Regions from separate parts of the Homo sapiens genome. Here all the other regions are linked to region 3. Evidence: fine-mapped expression QTL. A gene starts in region 3. Each other region holds a variant in brackets. All regions are shown on one strand. Distances are from middle to middle.

Region 1 (6,344 bases), 160 kb after region 3:
CAATTCCACCCACAAACTCTCCAATCACTGAGTCACACGAAGCCTCTTCCCATGGCTCATAACCATGGGACCCTCGCAGACACCCAACATCTGAAATATTTGAGGACAGTATCCCAAATAAGTCAGGAAAACTTTCACTCCCAACCCAAGCATGGCAGAGGCACCGAGCAGAATCTCTCCAGGAGCAAAACGAGCCTTTCAGTGTTTGAAAATCAAGAAATCGCAGATGTGAAGGAGGGCAGTGGAGATTTTTTTGTTCTTTCAAAATGAATTTTTAAATATATGTACAAAGGGACACAAGTATCCTGGAGATGGCGCACCAGACGGGTTCTCTCCGACATGACTTGTTCACCAGGGGCCAAGTGTCCAGGCTGAGAGCTAGGGCCCCAGGCAGACTGAGAAGTGTGACACAGGGCTCGTGGGTCACCAGCCTTCCGGAAAGTGCTTAACCTGTTTCTTTGTTCGTAAAGAGAGGACCACAGGAGCACTCACCAGCAGGGTTGCTGTGAGGAACGGGCACACATCTACACACAATCTCACACATGAACACACATATGTGCGCACACACACACCCCTACACACACCTATACATGCTCTCACACATGCACACACACCTACACACACACTGCCACATGCTCTCTCTCACACATACACACAGTCTCCCACCCGCACACACACCTACCTACTCACAATGCACCCCCCTGGTATACATGCCTGGTACAGCCTAAGTCTGCATGTGTGTCAATGATGAGCCTTCTTGCTGGGGAGTGTAATCTGCATGCCTGCGGTTGCCTAACTCCATGTCTGGACTCAATATTAAGAGAACAAAGATGCTGGAGTCGGGCGTGGTGGCGCGCACCTGTAGTCCCAGCTCCTCAGGATGCTGACATGGGAGGATCACTTGAGCCTAGGAGTTTGAGACCAGCCTGGGCAACATAGCAAAACTCTGTCTCAAAAAAAAAAATTTTTTTTAAAGACATAAGCAAGCATTCATTATCCATAGAAGGATTTCAAATCACACCACTCCATATAACAAAAAAATATTAATTTTGTTTTTCTAGTGTGAGTCCCCCAGAAGCAGATGAGGCAGATGCAAGCTCAAGTGGTTTACTTAGGAGGTGGTCCCAGGAGACCCTCCTAAGTAGGGTTGGGGAGGTGACGTTAGCAGGGAAGGCCACTGGTGAAGGGTCCAGCATCAAGGTGACCACTTGCGACCAACTGGGGCTCAGTCCCTGGCGCTGCCATGTTTTAGACCAGCTCCAGCCGGTCACGGGATGGGGATGCTTCCATGGGGCACTTATTCCTGGCACTTCCCGCTGCTGCAGGGCAGGGCGGCTTAGGTGGAAAGACGACCCCTCCAGAGAGGAGCTGAGGACACTGCGGTGGAAACGTGGCCAGCGTGGCCTGCAATAGCAAGAACCAAGGGCTATGACAGCCCCCATGGCACCCACTGCAGTCCACCCCTGGCAGCTTCAGAACACTCATGCCCCACACTGAGCTCACACTTTGCTGCCACCGGGTCTTCAAGGTGACATTTGCCTGTGATAATTTCTAAAATACAAAAAAGAAAAAAGTCTTAGAACAGAAACATTCTTGGGCTGGGCGAGGCTCTGGCTGTGGCAGTCAGTGCCAGGCGTGGCTGATGTTCATCCTTTCCTCCTTGCCGCTGGCCAGGGGCTCAGCTAGACTAGGTCTCTTCTCCGGTGGGATAGCACTGACCTTCCCCGCCAGGGTTCTGAGCCCCCAGGTGGGCACCTTGGAGGTCTGTGGTCCTGCTGTGCCAATTCACAGGCCTGGAAGCACCAGAGGGTGCCCAGAGAACCCTGGAGTTCTGTACGTCCACCCCCATCCCTCTCATGGGACAGTGCACCTGTTGCTTGGTGATAGGCAGATTCACTCATCTGGCAGTAGGTTAGCAAGACTATCATACTGTATGTGCAAAAGAGAGATGGGCAGAAGTTTAAAAAGTTCTATTTTGCCTGCAAAAGTAAAGGCGGCGTCTGGCTTGCTCCTGGGCCCTAAGGAACGCTGAGCACCTGCCCAGAGGATGCCAGTGACGGTGGGGCTGCAGGTGCCTGTCTCGCCTGGCATTGCCAAAGGTTGGGTGGGCAGAAACCCTCAGCCGTCTGAAGAAGCAGGGCATTTCAGATCAGCCCCCAGCAGGAAGGTCCCATGAGGCCCTGGTGAGAGCTGACCGGAGGACATGGGGTCCCAGCCACCTGTTGGACACCATGGTGTGGGCAGGTCTGGGAAGCTTTTCTCCTCTTTTTTTTTCTTTTATGAGACACTGTCCTTCTCTGTTGCCTAGGCTGGAGTGCAGTAGTACAATCACAGCTCACTGTAGCCTTGATATCTCAGGCTCAGGCAATCCTGAGTAGCTCAGCCTCCTGAGTAGCTGCCACTACAGGTGTGCACCACTATGCCCAGGTAATTTTTTTTTTTCTTAGAGACAGAAACTCCCAACGTTGCTCAGGCTGGTCTCAAACTCCTAGGCTCAGATGATCCTCCTACCTTGGCCTCCCAAAGTGCCTGAATTCCAGTCATGAGCCACCGACTGTGCCTGGCCTCTTCTCTTCTTGTTGGTGTTTGTCTATTACACATAGTGAACAGCAGGAGAAATATATCCGAGGGCTGGTGGCAGTGCCCTCTCCCTAACTCACCCCTAAACCCCGCTAACAGACACGGAACAGAACCAGAGCCGGGAGGTTTATTCTCTCAATGCAGGGGGATTCCTGGAGGTTTATTGTCAATGCAGGGGGATTCCGTTGCCACTTGCTGCCATCTCTGCACGATCAGCTCCTATGCATCTTCCCTTGGACTTGTCTGTGCTCAGCGCCAGGCCCCCGCCCACCCGCTTGCCTGGTGAGTGCCTCTCATTGGCTCCTCTCCTCGGATCAGCGCTCGCCTCCCCCCAGGTCACTTCACTTTCTTCCGTTCCTGGCCTGGTACCGCATTCTTGGATATCAACCTTTTTCTCCGAACAATCCATGGATGCTTGTTCTTCCTTTCTGTGTGCGTTTAGGGGTTCGTTTTATTAAAAACAAACAAACAAAAGCGCTTTATATTCTTGATCTTTCGAGATCTTTCCAGGATCATTTATTTTCATCTTTTAAGTCCAAGAGCTTTCCAGGATGCGCAGGCCTGTGTCTCTCCTCACCTGCCTTGCCTGAATTTGTGAGCGCTAGCAATCTCACGC[T/C]CACACTCTGCGGCGTTCCTTCTGCTCGGAGAAATTTTATGCCATTCTTGGTCTCCTGTCCTCCATCCGTGTGCCTCCCTGCTCCTGGAACGCCCGGGGTTTGCAGGGAAGGCTCCCGCGCGCCCGGCCCCCTCCCGCCCGCGGGCTCTCACTCAGCTCTGGCTGAGAGCTTCCTCTTCGCGGTGGTCTTCACCTTTTACGTCTGGTTGCGGTCTCTCCTGCATCGTCTCACTCATTTCCCCATTTGTAAAGCACGTGTTTCCGAGCCCAGTCTGCTTTTGCGCCGTGGCCTCCTGTCCTCAAGGGGCGCGTTACTGGTTTGGCGCCCGCGGTGGCTTCCGCTGCCGTCGGGGCGCTCTGGTTCCCGCTCTCTGGGCCACTCACGAGCTGCGTTCCTTTGCCCGTCCCCGGGCTCAGGTCCAGGTGCTGCTTCTCCCGGCAGGCGTGACCTGAGATTGTCGTGGGTCCCGCAGTCACTGGCTCTGCGGACGTTTTGCTCATCTCCTGCAGAGAATCCTGGAGGAAGCCCTTCTATCCCCAGCCTCCTTGGGGCAAAGGCCGGGGTGCCCAGGTCTCAGGCTGCAGGGCATCATTGCCTGCGAGCAGTTCTCTGGGGGCAGGCCAGGGGCCGGCCAGCGGGGCCTTGTGGAATGTCACGGGAGTGGCACTGCCTTTCCGTGGGGCCTGTGGGTCACACTCCCTCCAAGAAGGGGAACGGACCCACCCCTGGCGGAGTCCTGGGCCTCCGTCCCTGGCTCCCGGGAGGCCTGCCTGGGAACGCAGCTGCAGCTGGGAGAGGAAGGCACCGGAGGTTCCCACACCGCCGCTCTTCCAGAACTCGCTCCGCCGCCGATTTGGAGCAGCTTACATTTTGTTTTGTCTCTGCTTCCATCCGCAGTATTTATTTCTGCCTCCTGTGTTTCTGTTCTTCTCCAGTCTCCCCAGAGTCCATTTCTTTCTTTCCATCTCTATAAGGAACCAGCTTCTGCCTCCGAGGAGTGTCTCTGCCTCTCCGTGTGCCGACTCCCAGCTCGCACTCCTGTCTCACGTTCCCTTGGCATTTTGGTTTTGCTCTGTTATTTGTTCGTTTGTTTATTGAGACGGAGTCTCACTCTGTCCCCCAGGCTGGAGTGCGGTGCGCCATCTCAGCTCACTGCAACCTCCGCCTCCCGGGTTCAAGTGATTCTCCTCCCTCAGCCTCCCAAGTAGCTGGGACTACAGGAGAGGGCCACCACGCTTGGCTAATTTTTGTTTTCGTGGGTTTTTTTTTTTGAGACAGAGTCTCACACTGTCGCCCGGGCTGGAATACAGTGGGGCCATCTCGCTCACTGCAACCTCCGCCTCCCAGGTTCAAGCGATTCTCCTGCCTCAGCCTCCTGAGTAACCGGAATTACAGGTGCCCGCCACCACGCCCGGCTTATTTATTTATTTATTTATTTTGTATTTTAAGTACCACCACGCCCGGCTTATTTATTTATTTATTTATTTATTTATTTTGTATTTTAAGTAGAGATGGGGTTTCACCATGTTGACCAGGCTGGTCTGGAACTCCTGACCTTGTGATCCGCCTGCCTCGGCCTCCCAAAGTGCTTGGGATTACAGGCGTGAGCCACTGCACCAGGCCTAATTTTTGTATTTTTAGTAGAGACGGAGTTTCACCATGTTGGCCAGGCTGGTCTTGAACTCCTGACCTCAAGTGATCCACCCGCCTCAGCCTCCCAAAGTGCTGGGATTACAGGCATGAGCCACTGCTCCTGCCCTGCTCTGTTATTATTTTTAATATTGATTTGAACACTTGGTTCATTTATTTGTATGTTATATGTTTCTTTTTTTTTTTTTTTTTTTTTTTTTTTTTTGAGACAGGGTCTTGCTCTGTCGCCCCAGGCTGGAGTGCAGTGACATGATCTTGGCTCACGGCAACCTCTGCTTCCTGGGTTCAAGAGATTCTCCTGCGTCAGCCTCCTGAGTAGCTGGGATTACAGGTGCCCACCACCATGCCCGGCTAATTTTTGTATTTTTTTTTTTTTAGTAGAGGCAGGATTTCACCATGTTAGCCAGGCTGGTCTTGAACTCCTGGCCTGAAGTGATCCACCTGCCTCGACCTCCCAAAGTGCTGAGATTACAGGCGTGAGCCACCGCGCTCGGCCATATTTCCATGTTTTATGTTTCTAATGCTTATGTCTGTAATTTTCTGAGTGCAACAAAGGACACCTTTAGCTGCATCCAACAAATGTTGATAGAGATTGCTGTCACTGTTATTCATTTCTCAGTAGTTCATAAGTTCCTTTGTAATCCTAAGAGTATACACTGTCTATGGGAATCTGTTGATAGTTCCTTTCTGATACATGGCTGAAAAGTTTTTGCAAACATTTCTCATGTGCTTGAACTTAATTTGTGGGTTTTGGTAGTTGCATATTTCCACAAACACCTATTAGATGAACTTAACTGATCATGTTACTTACATCTTACACTCTCAAATATTTTTCTCTACTTCATCCATTTGTTTCTGAATATCTCCGTTAAATAATCCCGCTTCAGTTGTTGATTTCTCATGTTCTCCTTAAATTCAATTAGTTTTTGCTCCATATATTTAGAATTTACAATTGTTTTGGTGTGGCCAGCTCAATGGTGGTGATTTTCTTTTCCCTAAGGATGATCATTCCTGTTATCAGCACCAAGCATCTTTGTGTGTTCACATTTGATGTTTCTCCTCATATTTCACAGCAACTTCTTTTGGAAAATATATTTTCCTTTTCATTCTTTGTTTTTTAACGTGAGTCTCTTTCTGATTTTTTTAATTATTTTATTTTGAAATTCACACAGAAAAAAAGTGGTTTTTTTCATGGACAGTTCTGTGGATTTTAGCATGTGCAGAGATTTTTTTTTTTTTAAACAGAGTCTCGTCCTGTCGCCCAAGCTGGAGTGCAGTGGCGCGATCTCTGTTCACTGCAACCTCCGCCTTGAGGGTTCAAGCGATTCTCCTGCCTCAGCCTCCCAAGTAGCTGGGATTGCAGGTGCCTGCCACCATGCCTGGCTAATTTTTGTATTTTTACTAGAGACAGGGTTTCACCATATTGGCCAAGCTGGTCTCAAACACCTGACCTCAGGTGATTTGCCCTCCTCGGCCTCCCAAAGTGCTCAGATTACA
Region 2 (6,344 bases), 29 kb after region 3:
AATTTGGAGGGAGGGAGCAGTACCTTCCCGGAGTCCACGCATGTGAGTTGGGTCAAGTGCATTGGACCTAGGGAAAGAGAAAGAAAGAATAAAAGCTGGAGAGAGAGTGAAGTGAATGCAAGATACAAAGTGGGATGGAAGAATTAAATCCAGAGTTCCAGGCAATCAAAATGAGTGCAGGTTGAAAGAAAACAGGTGAATTTTAGTGGCATATGGATGATAAAGCTGTAAATAAAATTCTTTTGATGAAACTCTCCGGTTATGAGACAAAGACTGTAACTGAACAGGAGCTGGTGTGACTGTTACCAGACAGAGGCAACTGATGAAAAAGCCCTGTGAAAGATAGGATGTGAGGTGAGCATGAGCTTGAGCTGAGAGACAGACACAACAGTATCTGAAAAGAATACATACTCTTTCCATGCATATATGGAACATGGATGGAAACTGACCACCTACTTTGTCCAGAAAAGAAGTCTTAAGATATTTCAAGGAATCAGTGTCGTTATCTGACCGTATCCCAATGTCATTAAAAAAAATTTGAGCTATTTTTTTTTGTTTTTTAGATAGAGTCTTGCTCTGTCACTCAGGCTGGAGTGCAGTGGCATTTCATATTTGGAATTTTTAAAACACACTTATAAATTACCTATGAGTTAAAGAATTCCGAATGGCTATTAGAAATATTTGGGACTAAAGGATAATGAAAATGCTACGTATTAAAATTTGTGGAACAGGGCCTGGCATGGTGGCTCATGCTGTCAATCCCAGCTCTTTGGGAGGCGGGTGGATCACTTGAGATCAGGAGTTCAAGGCTAGCCTGGACAACATGATAAAACCCCATCTCTATTAAAAATAAAAAATTAGCTGGGTGTGGTGGTGCAAACCTGTAGTCCCAGCTGCTTGGGAGGCTGAGGCGGGAGAATCACTTGAACCCAGGAGGTAGAGGCTGCAGTGAGCCAAGATCGAGCCGCTGCACTCCAGCCTGGGTGACAGAGCAAGACTGTCTCAAAAAGAAAAAATTTAAGATTTGTGGAACAGAGCTAAAGCAGCACAAAAAAACATAGCCCCTAAATGTATGTGCATCTACAGATAAATAGTGCCATTTATACACACATACGCTGTATGTCTGTATTTTTAAAGCTAAAGAAAAATAAGCATGCAGCTTAAGTTGGAACAACTCAAAGTAAATGGAAGAAAAATCTCCAAAACTGACTAAAAGTAATAGAAAGCCTGAGTTGTAATCACTGATGAAATTGAGTCAGTAGTTAAGAATGTTCCCCTAGACGGTTTTACAGGGAAGTTCCACGATATAGAGAACAGGTAATTCCAGACGTAGACAAATTCTAACAGAATCAATTGAGAGAACACTTCATTCGTGAACTTAGCTTTGATACCAAAACTAGGTAAGAGAAAGGGAAGTTACCAAATACCTGTGGGCGGCAAGCCACCCAGGCGCCGAGGCAAGAGACAGAGGACACGAGCTGTTCCAGTATAATAAAATATAAAACAAGAATAGTTACAGCAGATATAGATCTTAGATATGATTACATATGAATATCATTAATCATTAGTTTGTAGCAATTACCTTTTATTCCAATATTATAATAATCCTCGCTCTATAATCATAGCCTAGGAAAAACCAGGCCATACAGAGATAGGAGCTGAGGGGACATAGGTGTGACCAGAAGACAAGAGTGCGAGCCTTCTGTTATGCCCGGACAGGGCCACCAGAGGGCTCCTTGGTCTAGCGGTGACGCCAGCGTCTGGGAAGACGCCCGTTGCCAGGTGGACCATGGTCTAGCAGTAGCAAAAAGTATCAAGGAACAACACCCGCTACTTAGCAGACCGGGAAAGGGAGTGTCCCTTTCCCTGGAGGAGTTTAGAGAAGACTCTGCTCTTCCACCTCTTGTGGAGGGCCTGACATCCGGCAGGCCTGCCCGCAGTTATCTGGAGGCCTAACCGTCTCCCTGTGATGCTGTGCTTCAGTGGTCACGCTCCTAGTCCGCCTTCATGTTCCATCCTGTACACCTGGCTCTGCCTTCTAGATAGCAGTAGTAAATTAGTGAAAGTACTAAAAGTCTCTGATATGCAGAAGTAATGGCATAAGCTGTCTTTCTCTCTGTCTCCTCTCTCTCTCTGCCTCGGCTGCCAGGCAGGGAAGGGCACCCTGTCCAGTGGACACGTGATCCACGTGACCTTACCTATCATTGGAGATGACTCACACTCTTTACCCTGCCCCTTTTGCTTTGTATCCAATAAATAACAATGCAGCCAGACATTCGGGGCCACTACCGGTCTCCGAGCATTGGTAGTAGTGGTCTCCCGGGCCCAGCTGCCTTTTCTTTTATCTCTTTGTCTTGTGTGTGTATTTCTACACTCTCTCATTGCTGCACACAGGGAGGGAGAGACCCACGGACCCTGTGGGGCTGGTCCCTACAAATACCAATGTCAAGATTTTAGACAATAATAAACCAAGTTTAGCAAAGTGCCACACTGGATTTAATTCAGAATTGCAAAGCAGTTTCAATGCCAGAGAATCAAGAGTGTAATTCATATCAATAGATTAAAGGAGCAAAACCCACGTGACCATCTCAATGGTTGCAGAACAGGAACACAGTAAATGACGCGACAGCCATTTATAACGAGTTTTTAGCAAACTAGGAATTAAGGTATTTCCTTACTCTGATAAGGGGATTTGGAGCCAGGCATGGACCCATCTTGAAACTACATTCTGGGTCAGGCAAATGTAGATGTATTGGAGGGAAAGACATCCCCATGGGTTCCCAAGAGGTGAAGTCATCATAGTGAACTAAGGGGCCAGTGAGGGTCTGGAAAAGGCCACTGCCATCACCTGGCTACAGAGACTGAAGAGGCGGGGGGGGGTCTCGTCCTGAGCAGAGACAGGACAACTGGGTGGGCCAGTGAGGGCTGCAGGTGGGGGAAGCTGAGAACCCAGCAATATTTTACTGCCACTGGATGTCTGCACAAGGAACCTATGCCAGCCAGGGAGGTTGAGAGTGAGGCTCAGTGGGGACTGGCATACTGGCTGAGTGGATGCAGTCATTGAGCAACGCATGTCATGCATGGCGTGGGCCATCACTCTGCTGGGTGAAAGTTTCAGGAGC[G/A]AATGAGACCCAGCCCTAGCTCTCAAGGAACCCATAGTCTCATAGGTAGTGGTCCTGCAAAGTGGCCAGGGAAAGGATCGGGGTGCAGGGTGCTGAAGTCACATGGAAAGTTGTGAACGTTGCCGGTACCAAAATGGAGTCACTTATGTCAAACTAAAACAGTTGGAGGTGATGAAGCAGCCCTCACGCACACATTCCTGCAACAGGACTTACCACAAGACATTTCTACAAACAGACCAATAACAGGACTCACTGCAAGACCATCCTCAACGGTTGCAGTATTCCAGATAAGCTGCTATTCCCAAATCCATTTATTTTAGAGAGTCTATCTCTGGATTTCTTCATAGGTTGACTGTGTCATGTAGGATTCAGTATAGTGAACAAAGATTGGGGAAAGGCAGACCCCAGGCAGAAGATCAGAGGCAAGGGGGACAGTCATGCATTTGTAAGGTCTAAAAAGTTCAGTCTGCTTTTGTGATACCTGACGAATTTTCATATGTTGTGTTTTCATTCAGTTCAAAATACTTGCTAATTTCCCTTTGATTTATTCTTTGGCTAATGAGTTATTTAAAGGTATGTCATTTAGTTTCCAAATATTTGGGAATTTACCAGAGATCTTTCTGTTACTGATTTCTAGTTGAATTTCATTGTGGTCAGAGAACATACTTTGTATAACTTGAGTCCTTGGCTGGGGCGTGGTGGCTCACACCTGTAATCCCGATACTGGGAGGCTGAGGCAGGAGGATCATTTGAGCCCAGGAGATTGAGGTCAGCCTGGGCAATGCAGCGAGACCCTGTCTCTACAAAAAAATTTAAAAAATCACCCTGGGGCGGTTGCCCACGCCTATGCCTATAGTCCCAGCTACTCAGAAAGCTGAGGTGGGAGGATCACTTGAGCCCAGGAGGTTGAGGCTGCAGTGAGCCATGTTCCTGCCACTGCACTCCAGCCTGGGCAACAGAGTGAGACCGTGTATCAAAAAACAACAAAAAACCACTTGAATCTTTTTGAAGTTAACAGGGTTTGTTTCATAGCCCAGACTGTGGTCTCTCCTGGTAAATGTTCTGTGTGTGCTCGAGAAGAATGTTTTCTGCTCTTGTTGAGTCAAGTGTTTTAATGTCAGGTCCAGTGGAGTTCAAGTTCTGTATCCTTGCCAATTTTCTTTTCTTTTTTCTTTCTTTCTTTCTTTTTTTTTTCTTGAGACAGAGTTTTGCTCTTGTTGCCCAGGCTGGAGTGCAATGGCGCGGTCTTGGCTCACTGCAACCTCTGTCTCCTGGGTTCAAGCAGTTCTCCTGTCAGCCTCCTGAGTAGCTGAGATTACAGGCATGCGCCACCATGCCCGGCTAATTTTGTATTTTTAATAGAGATGGGGTTTCTCCATGTTGGTCAGGCTGGTCTCGAACTCCCGACCTCAGGTGATCTGCCTTCCTCGGCCTCCCAAAGTGCTGGGATTACAGGCGTGAGCCACTGCACCTGGTGCCAATTTTCTATCTATTCATTCTGTCAATTATTGCACTTCATCAAAAATTAAAAATTAGGAAAACAGATAAAAAGGCTCACAGTGGGAGAAAATATTTGTAAAACATACAGTATAATAAAGGACTTGTGGCCGGGCGTGGTGCCTCACTCCTGTAATCCCAGCACTTTGGGAGGCCGAGGCAGGTGGATCACTTGAGCTCAGGAGTTCAAGACCAGCCCGACCAAGATGGTGAAATCCATCTCTACTAAAAATATAAAAATTAGCCGGGCGTGGTGGCAGGTGCCTGTAATCCCAGCTACTTGGGAGGCTGAGACAGGAGAATCACTTGAACCTGGGAAACGGAGGTTGCAGTGAGCCGAGCTGTCGCCACTGCACTCCAGCCTGGAAGACAGAGCAAGACTCCATCTCAAAAAATAGTAAATAAATAAATAAATAAAATGGCATAACCATTTTGAAGGTTCGTTTTTGCATAAAGATGTCCAGTGTTCCAGGACCAGTTGCTGAAAAGACTGTCTTCGTAGAATTGCCCTTGTACCTTCATCTGAAATCAATTGGCCATAAATCTGTGTAGGTCTATTTCTAAACTGTGTGTTCTGTTCCCCTGAACCTTTCGCCAGCGCCACACCGTCTTAATCACTGCAGCTCTATAGTAAGTGTTGAAATCGGGTAGCATGAGTCTTCCAACTTTGTTCTTTTTGAAATTGTTTTATTTCACATTTACTACATATAGTCATTACTTAATCTGCATTTGCTCTTAAAAAATGTAGCTCTTCTGGTTTTTAGGAAGGCTTGATTTTTTTTGGGTCTAGTTGCTACTTACTGTTCATACCCTTAAATAATATCTTTAGTCCCCTCAACCTTTAAAAGAGTTCTCATAGTTCCCTACTATGAAATAATTTGTAAACCTTTCCCCTCTCTCCCTTCTCTCTCTTTTCTACCACCCATGGTTTTTTTTGTTTTTTTTTTTGAGACAGGCCTCGCTCTGTCACCCAGGCTGGAGTGGAATGGCGCCATCTCAGCTCACTGCAACCTCTACCTCCCAGGTTCAGGCGATTCTCCTGCTCCAGCCTCCCTAGTAGCTGGGATTACAGATGCGCGCCACCAAGCCTGGCTAATTTTTGTATTTTTAGTAGAGATGGATTTCACCATGTTGGCCAGGCTGGTCTCGAACTCCTGACCTCAGGTGATCCACCTGCCTCGGCCTCCCAAAGTGCTGGGATTACAGGTGTGAGCCACCATGCCCGGCCCACCCATTTTTTGAATGAATACTATTATATTTCTTAGTATTTGCCTCTGTCCTCTTTAATATGCTAAACTTCTCAGTTTGTCAGCATTAAGTGATGTCTTTAGAATCCAACTATAATATGAAGGAATCAGCAGGGCGATTCTATTTTCCATCCTCTCTCTGCTTTCTTGTCTCATACTGTTATAGCTGCCTTTGTAAAATTGTTTTTTTACACATTCTGTTACCTTTGTGTATGAGTTTGCTAGGGCTGCCATTAACAAAGCACCGCAGAGCAGCTTAGGTGAGAGGAATTCATTGTTCACAGCTCTGGAGGGCAGGGGTCCAGTCCAGACATCAGCAGGGTTGGTTTCTTCTGAGGACCCTGAGTGAAGGCTGTTCCTGGGTGCTGTCCTTGGCCTGCAAACAGCATCCTCTCATCTTCCCCCTGTGCCTGTCTGTGGGTCCTGATTGCCTCTTCTTATAATAAGGACACCAGTCACATTGGATTAGAGCCCACCT
Region 3 (5,660 bases):
ATCTAGCCAGGCCTAGGAAGCCACGGCTAGGAGGGCACTGACCAGGCCCAAGGCCAACTGTGCCCCAGTGAGCTTGGCATGGCCTCTCAAAGGCAACTCGGGCTGGCAGTGATGCCACCCTCTCCCCAGCAGCCTGAAGTCCTCCCTCAGCACATGGGAGACCCCGTCCCGGAGGGCGGGGCTCAGTGGAGGTTGGCTGCCTGGCCTTTGCTGCCCCTTAGTGGGTGAGAAGGGAGTTGGGACAAGGCTTCCATGGAAAGACCTCACTGGAGTCACCACCGTTGTCCCCTTGTATATTGGAGGGTCTGCTGGGGCTTGCCCTCCAGCCCAGCGCAGCTACCATCATCATCCCTCATGGGCTGCATGAGCCCTGCTGGGCCCTGGCCATTGATGTGGCGGCCCATCTCCAGGGCTGTTTCCCTCCTTGTCTCTGCCACCCACCCCCATGGCCATGCAGCAGCCTTGTCACCACCAGAACGTGAAGGCAGAGCCCCCTTACAGCCACGTTTGGACTTCCCTGGACCACTGCCTTGCAGTGACCTCGGCGCCCCAGTCCCATCTCAGCTCCACAGTCCACCATCATAACCATTCTTCATGGGAACCCCGTGGCCCCCTGCACTTAGAGCCTTCCTGCCCACCCCTGAGCAGCTAACACACTGGCTGGAAAAAGTCCAAGCCTCAGGCTGGCAGCCCTTGTGCCTGCAAGGCCTCTGCAAGGTGCCCGCCTTCTACTTGAGAAACCCTGGTCCTGCCTTCTCAATCCACACTCATGCTTCGGGAGGGCTGGACTGCCTCTCCGCACTCATCAGAAGCCCGTAGACGCATCTTCCCATCCGCAAACCAACCTGAATCTGTCCGCTCCAGCCTCTGTCCATTTCCCTCCTTAGCTGGACTCCAGAAAGGCTTTCTGGTGACCCAGCACCTGCCTAAGGCCGGACACTGCCCTCATGGGCTGCAGCCTACGCTCCACTCTAGCCAGGTGTCCCTGCCAAGCTTCAGGTGCCTCACCAAGGTTGCCAGGGGCCTCTGTGTTATCAAATCTATCATTTTTCTGTCCTCATCTTCCCTTCAGTACCACGGGAGGACTTCCAGCCTCTTCCTGGGGCTCAGGACCAGGCCTCTCTCCCTTCTCTAAACTCTCGCCGGGTGCTCACCCAGATCCACGGTGCAACCATCTCCTTCATCCAGCACGGGTGTCCCTGTTTCAAAAGCCCGATACTTCCCTAATACACACCTTTCCTAATACAGCTCAAGCTTAAAACCTTCAAAGGGACTCTGAATTCTCCCCCCAAAACCCACCGTCTTTTCCTGGATGACCGCAGTCAAGGAGTCCTCCCTTCTCAACCATGCACACTGTCCATGCAGCCCCCACCCAACCCTCTCCACACACCCACTGCAGTGCTCCTGGCCTGGTCTCTGGGTCATCCGGGCTGTGCACACTAGCCCAGCCAGTCCTTTGGAGCCTACCTCAGCCAACACATTTTTGCCTCAGACTTCCATGGACCCTGGCTTCTCCCTGGGGTGCTGTTCCCCCGACCCCACTGCCACCACATCCCTCCAGCCTCAGCCTCGAGCGAATCCCTCAGCGAGTCTCCCCAGCCCTCCTGTCTCCGCAAGCCCACCCCACATCCCTCGCCCAGTTTCTTTCACACCTCGCATTGCCACGCACACTCACTCACTCCCGAGCCTGCTTCTGGCTCTGTGCCTGCCTGCACTAAAAGCTGTGGGGTCAGGGGCCATCATCCCTCTCTTCACTGTGCCAAAAAACAGGCCTGATGCATCAACACGGATCGCTGAAGGACGACCTGCCTTCAAGCACGCTCCATCTGGGGCAAGGCGGGCATGCACTCAGATGGCGATGCACTGATGGGGGTCCACTGGGACTTACATTTACACAGAGCTCGCTGGTACCGCCGGCCCTGGGTGTGCCTCAGCACGTGTTCTGGGCACTTGTTGATGTGCCGCAGGGTGAGTTTGCAGAACAACTGGTGCCTACAGAGCAGAGAGACCAAATTTGTAGGGACAGTTCACAGCAAGGATTCAGACTGGTGGCTGTGTCTTGGACTCATCCCTGGACAGTCTACCATGCGGCTTGGACATCGGGCTTTTAAAGGCTCCCGGAGCAATTCCACTCTGAAGCTGGGTGGGGAACCGTCTGACCCAGGCCGACTGCAGCCTCTTAATGTTTACCGGAAAAGCACGCATGGCAGCCTCACTGACTGCTCCAGGATGAGTTCATGCAAGAGGATGGCTCCACCTGGAGCAAGGGCTCAATGAATGGAAACATCCTATCTCTGTTTTGACGATTATTACAAAGCCTAGCTCCCAGCTAAATCAAAGACCCCTTCTGGGGTTAAGGGAAGAACCCAACGCTGTTCACAACCTCAGGTGACAAATCACAAGCCTCTACTCATCTGGGAAGCAGCCACACCCCACAGGACAAACCTCAGGTGAGCAAACGAGCTCACCAAGAGGCCTCGCCGCTGGGACCGCAGGTGATTCCAGCACCCGGGCGCCCACCTGGGTCCCAGGGCTCCCAACTCTGAAAGAGTAGGGGCTGCAGCACTGGCGGAGTCCAGCGGAGGGGCTGTCCTAATTGCCCTGGGCCTCCCCGCGCCGCCGCGGACCACCTACGGGTTCTTGGTGCTGGGCACGATGTGCGGCTCGAACTCTGCATAGTCGAAGGCCGGGGAGGCGCGGACCAGCCGCTGGTACTTTTTGCCGCGGGTGTAGACCTGGAGCTCCGGCAGGCGGCAGGGCAGCTCGTGACCTGTCAGGATGCACCTCACCTGCGGACGCGTGGGCGGGCAGGACGTCAGGAGGGCCAGGGCTCCGCTCCCTGGTGCCCCCTCCTGCCGCGCCCCCTTCCCTCTCCTCCCCTGATCCCGCCGCGCCCTCTCCCCTGCCCTCCCCTCTCTCCTGCTCTCCCCTCTCCCCTCTCCCCTGCCCTCTCCTCTCCCCTGCCCTCCCCTCAGCCCCTCATCCCAACTGCGCCCTTCTCCGCCACTCCGTTCCCCTCCCGCGCTGCGAACCTTGCGGGCGTCCGTCTGGAGCCGCAGGCTCGGGTGCTCCCGCAGAAACGCCCGCACGTCGCCCGGCAACTCGCTCATGGCCGACGCGCCCGCGGAGCAGCCCGGCGGAAGCCGCTCGCAGAACCTGGAGCCGGGGGCGGGGCTCTGGGCGGGACTCAGCGGCGCCCCGGATGCAGATGCTTCCTGCGTCCCGGAAGCGCCCGCGGGGCCGGGTGCGATGGCGGCGGTGGCTGCGTTGCAGCTGGGGCTGCGGGCGGCGGGGCTGGGACGGGTGAGCGCCGGGTGCGGGGTGCGGGGTGCGGGGCGCGGGGAGGGGTCCCGGAGCTCAGCCCGCCCGTCCGTGTCCGCAGGCCCCGGCCAGCGCCGCCTGGAGGAGCGTCCTCAGGGTCTCCCCGCGCCCAGGTGAGGGCTGCAGGCCGGGCTGTGATCCAGGCGCCTGGGCAGAGCCACCTGCTGTCTGCCCTGCACTTTGAAGGGTTGTCGTGGGGATTGAAATGAACCAACTGCCGGCTGAGCGGAGGCTCCCTGGGAGTGACAAGTTCCGTATTAAAATGCTTTCAGTGGAATTGTGGTCGTGTGCCGGGCATGTAGCGAGCGCTTTGTCCTCACAACGCGAGAGGTAGCTCCTTGGTCGTTCCCCTGTTACAGAGAAGGCTCGAGAGTTACTTCCGAACGTCCCATCCAGCTAATGGGTGGCCAGCCCAGGCTGAAAGCCCAGGGCTCTGAAAGTAAAGCGTATCTAACCACCGCGGCTTACGTGTTCCTCTCAGTGTGCAGCACAGGGCTGTTTTGCCGTGTGTAGAGTGCTGTGCAAGCCTGCCCCAGGCCTGCCTTTTTATAAAAAAAAAAAAAAAAATAGTATCCGCAAGGCCCCTGGTGCTTTTCAGCGGATGGAACTCATCCTCTGAGAGCTTAAAGGCACTTTCTGTGTACATTCTTCCCTCTTTACATTTACGATGAGTTGTAAAAATGGAAAGCTGTTAAGAGAGCTCTGTGAGCCATTACTGAATTGATATATTTTTCTACATAACACAACAACCACTAGTGCCTGACTAAGCTACTTAGTAACTGTAGCTGCTTATTTTTTATTTTTTGAGACAGTTTCGCTCTTGTTGCCCAGGCTGGAGTGCAGTGGCGCAATCTCGGCTTACAGCAACCACCTCCTCCCAGGTTCAAGCGATTCTCCTGCCTCAGCCTCCCGAGTAGCTGGGATTACAGAAGCACCATCGTGCTCAGCTAATTTTTGCATTTTTTTGTAGAGATGGGGTTTCTGCATGTTGGTCAGGCTGGTCTCGAACTCCTGATCTCGTGATCCGCCCGCCTTGGCCTCCCAAAGTGCTGGGATTACAGGCGTGAGCCACCGTGCCCGGCCAACTGTAGCTGCTTATTAAATGCATTTTGAATGGATGAATGGTGCATCTTAGTGCAGTGGAATACATCTAGATTCTTGAGTAAAAAGGCATGAGTTACTCAGGGTCGTGGTTGGTGGTCAAACCGGCACTGAGCCCTAGATCCCACTTACTCACTTGGCAGACGTACTGTGTGTGCCTTGTTCTGGGCACCGGGTTAGGAGCTGGGCTGGATACAGGTGCTGCTAGTTGGCTCTAGGCAGCAGGTTTTGATTGGCAGTACTGGAGTCTGTCTTGGAACGGGCTGCTCCAGGTCTGTGTTCGAGGGCTTCTGGCTCCATGTCAGTGTTGTGAAACTCTCCAGGGGTGGCCTGGAGGCCAAGCAGATGTGGCAGTTCTGCAGCAGAAGCATCTGCCACAAAAGCGGAAGATGACTCCTTTCTTCAGTGGGTCCTGCTCCTCATCCCTGTGACTGCCTTTGGCTTGGGGACATGGCAGGTAAAGACCGGCATCTGGTGTGCGTAACTCTGGGCCCTTGACCTTGCTGCCATCTGCTTGGCCTTATGCTCTGTCACTGTAGGTCCAGCGTCGGAAGTGGAAGCTGAACCTGATTGCAGAGTTGGAGTCCAGAGTTCTGGCTGAGCCTGTCCCTCTGCCAGCCGAGTGAGTGCATGGCTGCCCCCCTAGGGCCTGTTTTACTTGAGTTCAACAGCAGAGCCCTGGCTTCTGCTGGCCAGCTTGCCCCTTTTGGTGGGACTTTTAGTCACTGCCTTGACCTCAGGTGGGAGCTCTCATTATCAGTCATCTGTTGGGCTTGCTGTTGACACCTGACTGCCCTTGTGAAGCTACCTGAGACCGCCTCCTGACATATGGAGGAAAGTCTTATTTTGAGTCCTGGGTGTCACCCTTTTTTCAGGTATAGTAAACTTATCCTCCACAGGGCCCAAGGCCCTGTGGCTGAGGACAGATAATGTAGGTCTCACCGTGAGGGTGGTCGTTTGAAAAAGTGCCCTGAATGATTTGTCTGCTCTCTCCCTAGAATATGCCCTACAGAGATAGGTATATTCAGCCACATTTTCCATTCAGGGTAGCAAACAGTATGCCAGATTTGGCTTGCAGATGGGGTTTTGGCCCACATATTTTTTAAAATTTCACATAAAATATTCATTGAGGAGTCCAGATTTTTAGCCTCTCTTGTAAAGTTGGACTCTGGCAGTGCAGATCCACATTCCCACATGGCATCAAAGTTCCCCTTTGAAGAGCACGCCCTTTGCCTTTC
Region 4 (6,344 bases), 28 kb before region 3:
CCAGCACTCTGGGAGGCCGAGGCGGGTGGATCACTTGAGGTCAGGAGTTCGAGACCAGCCTGGGCAACATAGCAAAACCTTGTCTCTATTAATAATACAAAAATTAGTGGGTGTGGTGGTGGGCACCTGTAGTCCCAGCTACTTGGGAGGCTGAGGCAGGAGAATCGCTTGAACAGGGAGGCGAAGGTTGCAGTGAGCCAAGGTCGTGCCACTGCACTCCAGCCTGGGCGACAGAGTGAGACTCCATCTCAACAACAACAACAACAACAAGACTGACACAATGAAGTGCTGGCCTCCATGTGGATCGGGAATGCTCACAACTTGTGAGAGTAAACATGGGGCCAACCAAACCAAGTCGGAAATCTGTTTGGAGCATCCACTGAAGCTACACACATGTACTCTACGACCCAATAATTCCACTCCTAGGTATTCATCCCAGAAAAGTGAGTGTCTTCCAGCAATGCTCATAGCAGCCTTATTCACAATAGCCCCAAACTGGAAGCAGCCCAAATGAGACTAGGTAAACAGCCTGCAGCGCAATCAGGCAGCAGAGTGGCAGCAAGCAATGAACACATGATTTGCTGGTGCATGCAGCAGCACCGCGGGGCTCACAACAGCAGGCTGAGGGAAGGAGACCAGACAGGAGTGGCAGCATGCCGGACGAGTCCATTTACAGGAACTTCAGGGACCGGCAGAACAATCTGGAATCATGGTCACCGACTGGGAACCTTCTAGTGTTAGGAACGCCTTCTGTCTTGATCTGGGTGGAAGTTGTGTGAGTGCATCAAACTGTGCACTTAAGATCTGCACACATTACCTAGAGTGCAATGCCTCGAGGCACACATTTAAGAAAAAAACAAGGCTGGACTCCATGGTGCCTGCCCTCCCGCTGTTACTTTGCCCTGCACCGCAGGGCCTGTGTCACAGGTCTAGGTGGCCCCCAGGCCTGGTGCCCCAAAGGACCTCACCTCAGAGTCAATGATTTTCTTTGCCTTCCTCTTATCCTCAATGACCTCCTGGAAGCTGAGCTCATTGAACTCCATCACCAGGCAGAGGTACAGAGAAGAGATCTGCTGGGACAGGAGGCCCTTAGCCAAAGGACGCCCAGGCCCCGGTGCTTCTGCAGGCTCACCTGCTCCAGGGCCTCCCTGCGCTCAGCTGCCATTTGCAGTGGCCGTGGGAGCACTGCCCACTGGAGGGGGCTACAAGCCCCTCCTGCCCCACCTTCAGCTTCCTCTCTCTCCTCTCCCCATTCCCAGGCTCCACCTCCACTCCACACTCCATCCACACCAAGCTACTTGGACTTTCCCAAAAGCTGCACTTGTCCCCTGGCCACTGCACACATGGACCCCTCTGCTTGGACCACTACCCACCCCCTTCATAGGGATAACTATGCACCCTTTAGGGCTCAGCTCAGACCCATTTCCTCTGAGGACCCTGCCCTGGCCAGAGCCCCAGCAGACCAGGTCAGGGCCCCCAATTCTGTGCTCCCTCCCATAGGGAAATGTCCTCTTGGCTTCTCTGCACCCTCCTTGAGAGCATTAGGGGGTGCTCAGAAAATCTTTGGGAGTGCATGCAGTGAGGTCCCCTCCCCAAGACCCGCTGGAGCAGAGGGAGCGTGTGAGGGGCCTTTCCTGCTCGGACCCGGGATTGTTGGCCCCAGGTGGGAACACCAGTGTGGACATCTCATGCAGGCTGGCGCCTGGCAGAAGGCTTCTCAGCCTCTCTTTACCTCCAGCACCCCTTGTGCCTGCTCAGCCTCCCGCTGTCTGCCTCAGTCCCATCAGAAGTGACTGGAAAGCTCCTGGCTCCTTGTAAAGACAAGAAGTCATCCAGCCTACAGGACCCGGCTGCTGGACCTGAGTCTCCGTCCCCAGTCAGCTGTTTACTAGCTGTGTGGCCTTGGAGAGCTCCTGAACCGGAGCCCTAGGCCCCATCAGGAGCACAGGGACAGTACTTCCTGCCCTGCAGCCCTCCTGGCACGTGATGACGGATGTGGTGCTGGTCAGTAAGCTGCACAGGGGCTGCAGGAGTAAGGGGCGCACAGGCCCAGGACGGCACCGGTGTCGGGTGGCTGTGGAGACGGAGGTCAACTAGCTCCTTCCATGAAAGTAAAAACTCTGTCATCAGAGGCACAGGCTCACCAGGACAAGCTCGTTGGCTGCGTGCAGAGCCCGGGAGTCAGGCCCATCTGGCCTGGCCCTCTGGCTTGGCCACGTACTAGCTGGGTAACCTGGAGCAACTTGTTTCTGTTAGCCTCTGTTTCTTCTTCTGTCAAATGGGTTAAGAACCCCTCCTGGTCAGGCGTGGTGGCTCACGCCTCTAATCCCAGCACTTTGGGAGGCCGAGGCGGGCGGATCACTTAAGGTCAGGAGTTCAACACCAGCCCAGCCAACATGGTGAAACCCCGTCTCTACTAAAAATACAAAAATTAGCCGGGCATCATGGCACGCGCCTGTAATCCTGGCTACTCGGGAGGCTGAGGCAAGAAAATCTCTTGAACCCGGGAGGCAGAGGTTGCAGTGAGCCAAGATCACACCATTACACTCCAGCCTGGGGGACAAGAGCGAGACTTTGTCCAAAAAAAAAAAAAACTCTCCTGACGATGAGGTTTTTGGGGCTCCTATGAGACTATGCACCGAAAGCCCCCAGCATGGTACCTGGCCCCAGTGAGTGTTAGGTCAGGGGTGGCCACGTTTACAGTCACTGCCATTGCCACACGAGCTATTCTGACAGTGGGGGGTGGGCGTGCTCTGGGCTCAGTCTGCTTGGTCCTGCAGCCCACTGCGTGGCGGCTGAGCCCGTAGGTGTCAGCTCTGACCCACCTCCCCATTCCACGTGATGAACAGCTCCTGGTACACAGAGATGTGGGCGTGCCGCAGCTTCAGCAGTGGCATCAGCTGCCAGGATAGAGCAGAGGAAACGGAGAAGTCAGTGCCTCTCCACGCCTTTCTCAGCTCGGGCTTCTCTGTCACACATCCCAACAAACATGCAAGCCTCGGGCTCTGAGCTGGGCCAGGGAGTGGGCTCAGGGAAGCTGCACGGTGGTTGGGAGCCAGGCAGTCCGATGTGGGTCCTGTCTCCAGCATGAGCTGGCTGTGCTGGGTGACTGGGCCTCATATAGTCATCTGAAAATGGGGGTCCTAGTGGAATCTGCCTCACAGGGATACCATGGGGGGTGAGTGAGCTGTGGCAGGCAGTGCCAGGAAGGTGGGGATCAGCCACAGCCAGGGCTGGCTGGAGGAGGTGGTGCAGACACCGGGAGGTGGGCACAC[G/A]GAGAGGTCCCGGTGCCCCTGCCCTGGCGGAAAGTGCTTTGAAACATGCCCAAACAGGAGCAGATAGGGCTGCCTTAGAGACATGGAGCCAGACAGACAACTGCTTGGGGTGGAAGGTTGGGCATGAAAGCAGGTGGCCTACCTAGTGGGCTGTGGATGGGAATCGGCAACGTGAAAAGCCACGGCGGCGTGCGGCTCTGGGCAGGCCCCATGCTCTTTCTTCCCATTTGTTACCGAGTAGCCTGGGCCCACCACTGTGCTTCGGTCACACTATACACCCAATAATGTTTGCTGGCCAAGCTCCAGAGCCAGCAATTCCAGAAGACAAACAAGTGACCATGAGATAAGAGGGGACACCTTCAAGCTCGTGGGAAATTCAAGAAACACAAAGAAAGGCTACTCGGAGGCTTTGCCAATCAAACCGAAGTGCAGCTGTTATCGCTATTATTGTAAACGAGTATGTTACTGCTGGGCAGCTCTCAATGGTAGAATTAAGGGTAATTTATATTTGTTTTGTTAAACAGTTCTGGTATGGGTGTGGTGGTACATGCCTGTACCCCAGCACTTTGGAGGCCGAGGTGGGACGATTGCTTGAGCCCAGAAATTCAGACTAGCCTGGGCAAAATGGTGAGACCCCATTGCTATTAAAGAAAAAAAAAAAAAGGTAAAAACAAAAGAAAACCCAATTCTGTATTTTTAAAATTTTCTGCTGTAATTAATAATTTTATATTGAAGAAAAAATATTTAAAGAAGTTATTGGTAGATTAACCTAGGGACCCGGCCAATATTTATTTATTTTTGAGACAAAGTTTTGCTCTGTCACCCAGGGTGGAATGCAATGGTGCAATCTCGGCTCATTGCAATCTCCGCCTCCCAGGTTCAAGTGATTCTCCCGCCTCAACCTCTCGAAGTAGCTGGGATTACAGGTGCCCACCACCATGCCCAGCTAATTTTTTTGTATTTTTGGTTGAGACAGGGTTTCCCCATGTTGGCTAGGCTGGTCTTGAACTCCTGACCTCAAGTGATCCACCCGCCTCGGCCTCCCAAAGTGGTGGGATTACAAATGTGAGCCACCGTGCCCAGCCCAATATTTAAATTTTATGTTCTCTGGGAACATATGTTCTAAGTTGTCGGCACCTGCATTTAGCAGTGAGTGTTTGGGGCATGGACTCCCTTCATGACCTGGGGCTGCTGGCTTCACAGCTGAGGCAAAACTGGTGCTGATGCTCTATCCCTCCCTCCAGCCTTCTCTTCATCCAGGCACTCAACAAGAAGGTACAGAACACAGTCTGTGTATGCTCCATTGAGCTCTTCCAGAGGGAAAACTACCCTGAGAGTTACCTCCTCCAGGGCCTGACTGGCGTAATGGTCATCCATGCATTCCACCTGCAAGGGCACAAGAGCATGAGCTTAATAAACATGTAGCAAATCATCTCCGTTATCACCGCCATCACCACCACCACAACGACCATTACCATCATCTGCACAGCCACCACCTCCACCACAACCATCACCATCATTACCACAACCACAACCAACACCACCATCACTGTCACCATCATCACCATCACCATCATCACCATCACTGCCATCATCACCATCATCACACCACCACCACTACCATTACCACCATCACTCCATCACCACCACCATCAACACTATCATCACCATCATTAACATCATCATTACCACCTTCATCACCACCATCACCATCACTGCCATCATCACCATCATCACCATCACCACCATCATCACCATCACACCACCACCATTACCACCATCACTCCATCACCACCACCATCACCACTATCATCACCATCATTACCATCATCATCATATATCATCACCATCATTACCATCATTACCATCATCACTGCCATCACCATCATTACCATCATCACCATCACCATCACCACCATCATCACACCACCACCATTACCACCATCACATCATCACACCACCACCATTACCACCATCACTCCAACACCACCACCATCACCATCATCACTATCATCACCATCACCACCATCATTACCAAAATCACCATCACACCATCATCACCATCATCACACAATCATCACCATCATCAAAATCATTACCATCACCACCTTAACCATCATCACACCATCACCACCACCACCACTATCATTACCACCATCACACCATCAACACCACCGTCACCATCACCACTATTATCCCCATCATCACCAACCTCATCACCATCATTACCACCATCACCATCACACCACGACCACCATCATCATCACACCATCACCACCATCACACCATCAACACCACTGTCACCACCACCACTATTATCCCCATCATCACCACCATCACCAACATCATCACCATCATTACCACCATCACCATCACACCACCACCATCATCACACCATCACCACCATCAAACCATCAATGCCACTGTCACCATCGTCACTATCATCACCATCATTACCATCATCACCACCATCATCACCATCATTACCATCATCATTACCACCATCACACCATCAACACCACTGTCACCATCCCCACTATTATCATCACCATCACCACCATCACCATTACTATCATCACCATCACACCACCACCACCATCATCACATCATCACCACGACCATAATCACCATGACCACCATCACCATCATCACACCATCACCATGACCACCATCACCATCATCACACCATCACCACCATCACCATTATCATCACCATCATCATCACCATCATCACTGCCACCACCATCACCACCACTACCACCATCATTGCCACCTCCATCATCACCACCATCATCACTATTTAGCAGGAGTGACAGGCTCCCACCATTCCTGCCCCCACCATATGGCACAAATGGAAGATATTCCTAAGGCAGAGATCTAAAAATACTTAGAGCAATGAGAACATCTTTGCTCCTTTTGCAAAGATAAGTTTAGGACAGCATAATATACGCTCCAAGAACTCAGTAAAGGATCCATTTTCAGACCGTCTTTAAACAGGAACATCTTGTTCTGGTTGGGAAAGCATCAATCTCACCACTTCATTCCTTACCCACATGGGGAAGGTTGTCT
Region 5 (6,344 bases), 950 kb after region 3:
AGCATCCAATTTGAACACACTGGCTCTAAATAAACGCTTCCTCGTGATGATAATGATAATGATCCCAGCGGCAGCACTGGGTCTTGTAAACTAGGACTCAAGTTGGGGTGAAAACCTACAAGCATTTAGGAGCCGAGGAGGGCGGAATGGAGCTGAATGACTTTCCCAACTCTGCTTTTTCACTTTTCAAGGTCTGGTTCCAGGTCCCTGAGACCTGCCCAGAACTCCCTTCCTGCAAATCTGAACTCTTCCGGGCAATGCAGCTCACTTGAAAACTTACGGGGGTGGGGACCCATCACAATGCCTGTCTTATTTGTGCATACCTGCGTGTGTGTGTGTGTGTGTGTGTGTGTGTGTGTGTGTGTGTGAATAAGAGCTAACATTTCCCAAGAGCTTTCCTTACAGCAGGTGCTGTGCTAAGCTGCCTGCCTCTTCGCATTCATCTCTATCTGCACAGTTATAAACGTGTGCATGTATCCCATCTCCCCAGCTAAATAGTAAATGGTTAACTCCTGTGAAATTCAGCAACGCTGAATTCTAAACTTGTTTCTATGCCCCCAGGAAAGCTCAGGATGGCACTGGGCACTTGACAAACCTTCAACAAATATTTCTTGGCCGTCAAGAAGTCCTAAGAAATCAGTAGAGCTCACTTTGGAAGGAACATTGAATGAAATGATATTGGGATCTGATTCATCTGTGAACACTTTTTGACTGCCTGCTATACATGATGTCACCAATCTGGATTGTCATTGGTTAATTAATCATATGTTGTGGCCAAAAGAACGTGGGGCTGGAAGCCAGGAGACCTTAGTCTCATCCCAATTCTGCCACCAGGTGAGGATAGCACCTCGGATGAGTCTGTTCCCCTCGCTGGGCCTTGATCTCCTCAAAAAAGGAGGTGGACTAGATGTCTGTAAGATGTCTTCCAGCCCCAAATGCCGTGTCTGCTCTATGACTCTATTTTAAAAATGCATGCACTTCTTATTGGTTACATAAAACCTCACAGAAAAACAAAGTCAATAATAAATTATGAAAAAATCGGGTGCTACGATCTTTTACACTTTCTAAGGGTGCTCGATTCCATAAATTCCACCCCCGTACATAGGCAGCCTCTCCAGGGAGACAGAAGATCCAAGGCTGTCAGGGGAGCAAACCAAGCAGTCTCTCCCTATAATTGTATTGACAGGTTATCAGCTGAGTTCCGATGGCAGGAAAGGTGCAACCCTGACAGGTTTTGTGAAGGAGTCTTGAAGGCTATTGTAGCAGGATTCTATGTGGAGTCACAGAATTCTGGGGAAATGAGAACCAAGCAGGGAGAAGCTTGGTTCTTTCTCTATTTAATTTTATTCTTTCCAGAGAGTCACATTTGAAGGAAAACGGGCTAACTGCACATCACTGTCTATACTAGAGTTGAAACCCTTTCTAATGGAAAATATTTACATCTTTTGTGGCCATGTAAAACACCGACTTGATTCAATCACTCCTATTAAATAACCAGTTGACTTGGTTTTAAATGAGGCAAATGGTTGTTGAGCATCTGTAGATAAAATACCTGCTTGGATGTCTCAGTTTTTCACTTTTCACTTGGTTATGGTGGCAACTTGCAGACGTGTTCTTGAATAACTGATGTGTATACATCCTGGTAAATTTTATGGATGTGAAATAACACTGTTGAGTTTGTTCAGTCAGTATTTCTACATTTTAAATGAAAAAAAATGCTGATCCTATTCATTGGAGAAAACAACCCACGAAACAACCCCCCAATATGGTAGAATAAATGCCTATTTCTAAGGTGCTATAGTCTTCCAATGCACACCTTCAGGTTCAGACTTAGACAAAACCAAAATATACTTTAGTTCTAATCACCCTCCTAAAGACACCACGGCAGAGTGCACTCCCAACCTCTACCATACATAGCGGAAAGGCACACACTACTACGGGGAGCTGAAAATCTATGATGGTGAAACTGACATGCCACAATGAAGAAATCCACAAGCCAAGCTCAGTAGAAATTTCCATAACATGAAAAGAAAAAAATCTTAAAGCTCCACAACCTCACATATTTTCCATTTTCTCTTTTTCTTTAGTCAAAAACACCAAAGTTGTTTCATAATTTTTTTAAAAAAACTAATATAGGAAGCTGTTTGAAGTGGTAAAAATAATGCTGGGCTGGGAGTTAGCAAACGAAGCTGCAAACCCAATCTCTGCCAAAACCTTGAGCAAAACAAACAAACAAACAAAAAAAAAAAAGCACAAAACAAACAAACAAAAAAACCCAAAAAAAACAACAGAGGTGGCTTCAGTGTGCTCATTTGCAAAAAGGGTCCAGAAAAGATAACAGTCAAGGTTCCCTTTTGCGGTCAATTTCTCTGCCAACTTTTATTTATGTCAGGTTTTGACCTCTAAAGTTATAAGATATTCTAATATTATATATGGTAAATACTGAAAAGTGGACGTCATCTTAACTGCTCCAGAAAGTACCTTAAAGACCCCGAAGAACCCACGAAGGAAAGCCAGAGGTAAAGGCTGCCCCCTGGCTGTCC[C/T]TGGTGGAAGAAGAGAACCCCAGGCTCCATCATCAGAGAGCACGAGCCTGGACGTGGGTCCCTGCTGCTCCAGCATGGTCACCAGGGGCCAGGGCAGACCTGCTCTGCATCTCGTGCCCTGAAGACAGAACCCCAGTCGTGGGTGAGTCACCTCCTGTACATTTTCCGACCCTAAGCTTGGGTTCAGAAATCAGGGATTGAATTGGTCCTAGAAGCTGTTTAGCTAGTGCCATCCAGAGGCCAAATGTTGTCCTCGATATAGCTGGGTGGGGCGGGGGAAGCAAAAGGAAAAAGGAAAAGAAGGGGGAAATTTACATATATGTACATACATTTTACACATATGTACATGTATATTATACATATGCATACATGTATATATGATAGATGTAAACGGTATGTTATATGGGTGCATACACAAATGCATATGCATGTATGTGTGTGTGTGTGTGTGTGTGTGTGTGTGTACATATTGCTCAGCGTGGGCACCACACACTAACTCACCATGGAGAATAACTCCATACGCCCTCACTTTACACTTCAGTAGGAAGAAGTTGGCTCACTACTAACTACTTGAACAAAAGCAACGACCTAACCTTAATGCAGGTAGTCAGAGGTGGCGGACGTGATTCTCTCCTTCATCCAAGAATAATGGGCCCCACCTGCCTGTCCTGCCTGTCCACTCAGAGTGGCTCTTCTCACGTAGAAGTAAGTGAAGGACCTTGTTCCACTTTGAGAGGCCTAAGAAAGGAGCCTATTCGATGGAAAGGCACGAGTGTGGGAAGCCAGCCTCCCCCAGGTGCAGCCTGCGCCTAGGCAGTATCCTTCCTCCTCTCAGGACCGAGTTTAGGGAAGGCAAGAGGAGGGAGTCAATGTTTTGCCAGGAGCCAATTAACTCAGTTAATTCTAGCACGGGTTCCCTTTTCCCCAAAACAAAAACAAACCGCCACCACCACCTCTGGGCTCTACTCAGCGCCTGGCGGTCACACAAATAATTGTTGTTGAATCCACGGTTACCACCTGCGCCTTCCACTCCCGCACCTGGGACGCGGGGCGCATTTTTAAAGGCGCACTGCCCTCCAGCGGCGCAAGATAAATTCGCCTCGAGGCTTGCTCCCTGACCCCCAAGCCTCAGCCTGACTTCTCCAGTGGCCCCCGGGAAGGTGTGGCCGCCACAGCAGTGTTGGTTTCCCATCAGCGGGAAGCGAGGCTAAAGGTGGGGAGGAGGGAAGTGTAATGGAAGGGAAAGTGATCCAGCCCGAAACCGCAGCTCCCTCATTCTTGTCTGCGGAGCCTCCTAGGCCAAAGATTATGCTTTTTTTCTCTTAGGGTTGTAATTTGGGTAAGAAATTAGTATGATCGAACGGAAATGAACATTCGACGTGATGCTTCCAGGACAGACACGGAGCCACCGCTGCATAGACGTACCCCAGGCGTGCAGCGGAACCGGAGAGGCGGCCTTTACCCTGGGAGGGCTGGCAGCCACGACTTAGACTGGGCGTGTGCGACCTATCTGTCACCCTGTGGGTTCACTCTGTGGGAAACCACAGCAGCACCCATTGCAGCCTTACCCCATGTCAGGCGCTGTCCCGAGGTCCCGCAGAAATTACCCTATTCAATCTTCCCAATCAGTCCCTTTAGTGGTGCCATTATCATCCCACTGTGAGGATGGGGAAACCGAGGCTGAGAGAGGCGACGCGACCTGCATGGGGGTCCAGGCCTGTCTGGACCAGAGCTGGAGCTTCCCACGCTGCGCTCGGACCCCGGGCCGCGGGGCCAGGGCGCTGCGGGTGGGGACCCCCGGCGGCGCAGGTGCCCGGAGCCGGCGACAGCGAAAGCGCGGTGGGCGTGGGGTGCTCACCTTGACGATGAGAGGGTTCTGAAACATGGAGTCCCGCACGACCCCCAGCCGCTCGTTCTCCATGCCGGAACGGATGTCCGCCACGGTCAGGGGCCGCCGCGGGGGCGGGCAGACCTGGCTGACCGTGCGGCGCACAGGCTGCTGCTGCTTCCTCCATCGCGTGAGGTCCGGGCCGGAGCTCCTGGCCTCTGGCATCCTTGAGGTCGCCGGGGAGCCGGCCCGCGGGCTGGTTTGGGCGCGCTTCCCCACGTCGGGCACAGCCTGGAGCTCCGAAGGGCCTGCCGGGCGGCCCGGGCCGCACCACCGGGATCCTGAGGGGGAAACTCAGATGCCAGGACCCCTCCGGAGCCAGGCGCGCCCCGCTCGCGCCGGCCCCTCATCGCAAAGAGCCCCGGAGCAATGCAGGAGCCCCGCGGGATCCTCAGGGCGTCTCCTGGGCCCCGCGTTGCAGACTGGGAGAGGAAAGAAAACCAAGACCACCCCTGGAGGACGAATGCAACGGCCCGTCTCCTTGGCGACGGGACGCCAACAGAGCCCGGCTCGGCTTGTACTTTTCTTTCAAGAAACTCTTGGTGGCTACCAGTGTGGACTTGTTTGGAGTTTTCCTGAATCGATACAGGAGAACCGAGAATCTCCAGTGGGTTGCGTTCAAAGCGGCGTGGCTCATAGAGGGTCATTTACATTTGTCTTCCAAGTCGAAGACTCCATCCTCTGCTCACCCCCATTCCACTCACAACCCCTCCCCACCTCTGCTCTTTGCGCCACACACACACCTGAGACAGAGCACTAAATGCATTCCAAGCCTGATGCTGATGCTGACCCACTGGGAGGACTCGGGCAAGTCACCCTCTTGGATCCTAAGGGCTTTTTTTCTTTTTTTCCTGTGAGATGGGTGACAAGGAAACGCTAGAGTTGGATTACATCAATGGTTCCCAAATTTAAGCAACAGAATGAAGGGAAATTGAAAAATACAGATTTGGGCTGGGCTTGGCTGCTCACCCATGTAATCCCATTGCTTTGGGAAGCCTAGGAGGGAGGATGGCCTGAGCCCAGGAGTTTGAGACCAGCATGGGCAACATGGTGAGGTCTCATCTCTACCAAAAATTAAAAAAATTACCCAGGTGTGCTGGCACACACCTGTGGTCCCAGCTATGGGGGAGGCTGAGGCAGGAGGATCACTTGAGGAGGTTGAGACTACAATGAGCCGTGTTTCGGCAACTACATTCCAGTCTGGATGACAGAATGAGACCATGTGCCAAAAAAAGAAAAACGAAGATTCACAGGACTCACCCCAGACTCACTAAATCAGAATATCTGGAAATGGCATCTGAGGCTCTCCTTTTTTTTTTTTTTTTAAGAGACGGAGTCTTGCTCTGATAATGACATGAGCCACCTCACCAGGCCAGATGCTGCATTTTTAAAAATCCCCTTACCCACCCACCCACAACTTGGTGAAAAAGTTCAAACCTACAGAAAAGTTGAAAGTCGAAAGAAGAATACAATGAAAATACATATAGGCTTCACCTAGATTCGGTTAGATTTTGAAGGGAAGGGGAGGGTTAAAGAAAGAGTGGCGGCTCTACAGCAAATTCAGGCTTTATGTCCAGCATGAGACCTACAGAGGTGGGAGACCAGCTTAATGCCAGTGCCTACCGCTGCTTACAGGCTGGAGAAATTATAGGCCTGGGCGGGGAGGGGCCCGGTGGGTATGGCCTGCTGCCCGGGAAGATGTTGATAAGGTATTCCCATGATGAGGCAGTTTGGCCCTTGTTCTGGTGGAACGTGATGTTCCTGTCACTTTCTCCCAGCAGAATATGATAAGAGGCAGGCTGTTTCTCACTGCCTGAACCCCCGTGGAATGTTTCACTTTAAGCAAGGTCTGCAAAATGGCAGGGGGCTTACAAAATGGTGCAGTTTGGACTAACAGATTCACCCGTCCCCAG

What was found.
Region 1: its variant is fine-mapped to the expression of SURF1 in atrial appendage (GTEx, PIP 0.97).
Region 2: its variant is fine-mapped to the expression of SURF1 in whole blood (TOPMed, PIP 0.99).
Region 4: its variant is fine-mapped to the expression of SURF1 in lymphoblastoid cells (GTEx, PIP above 0.99).
Region 5: its variant is fine-mapped to the expression of SURF1 in uterus (GTEx, PIP 0.96).

Annotation. Positions count from the first base shown.
Region 1 is chr9:133,197,345-133,203,688 of GRCh38, reverse strand. No RefSeq gene overlaps it. Among named protein-coding and RNA genes, the nearest start is that of OBP2B, 8.7 kb to the left of the region's middle. RefSeq lists an enhancer at 2,952-3,673. The variant T/C (reference allele first, on the strand shown) is at 3,197.
Region 2 is chr9:133,324,917-133,331,260 of GRCh38, reverse strand. It overlaps SURF6 (surfeit 6), which reads left to right. Exons shown (of 5, transcript NM_006753.6): 5 at 1-2,485. Among named protein-coding and RNA genes, the nearest start is that of SURF6, 8.1 kb to the left of the region's middle. The variant G/A (reference allele first, on the strand shown) is at 3,123.
Region 3 is chr9:133,354,043-133,359,702 of GRCh38, reverse strand. It overlaps SURF1 (SURF1 cytochrome c oxidase assembly factor), which reads left to right and starts at 3,216. Exons shown (of 9, transcript NM_003172.4): 1 at 3,216-3,303; 2 at 3,383-3,434; 3 at 4,746-4,879; 4 at 4,962-5,044. The coding sequence starts at 3,250. SURF2 (surfeit 2) reads right to left here and starts at 3,153. Exons shown (of 6, transcript NM_017503.5): 1 at 3,033-3,153; 2 at 2,635-2,789; 3 at 1,889-1,992. The coding sequence starts at 3,110. RefSeq lists silencers at 2,985-3,054, 3,295-3,414.
Region 4 is chr9:133,382,173-133,388,516 of GRCh38, reverse strand. It overlaps STKLD1 (serine/threonine kinase like domain containing 1), which reads right to left. Exons shown (of 18, transcript NM_153710.5): 3 at 4,617-4,661; 4 at 2,826-2,900; 5 at 969-1,070. Among named protein-coding and RNA genes, the nearest start is that of STKLD1, 9.0 kb to the right of the region's middle. The variant G/A (reference allele first, on the strand shown) is at 3,276.
Region 5 is chr9:132,408,524-132,414,867 of GRCh38, reverse strand. It overlaps CFAP77 (cilia and flagella associated protein 77), which reads right to left and starts at 4,657. Exons shown (of 6, transcript NM_001282957.2): 1 at 4,402-4,657. The coding sequence starts at 4,596. It overlaps LOC105376304 (a long non-coding RNA gene), which reads right to left and starts at 4,227. Exons shown (of 3, transcript XR_930405.2): 1 at 3,137-4,227; 2 at 1,553-1,639. RefSeq lists a silencer at 3,500-3,549. The variant C/T (reference allele first, on the strand shown) is at 2,544.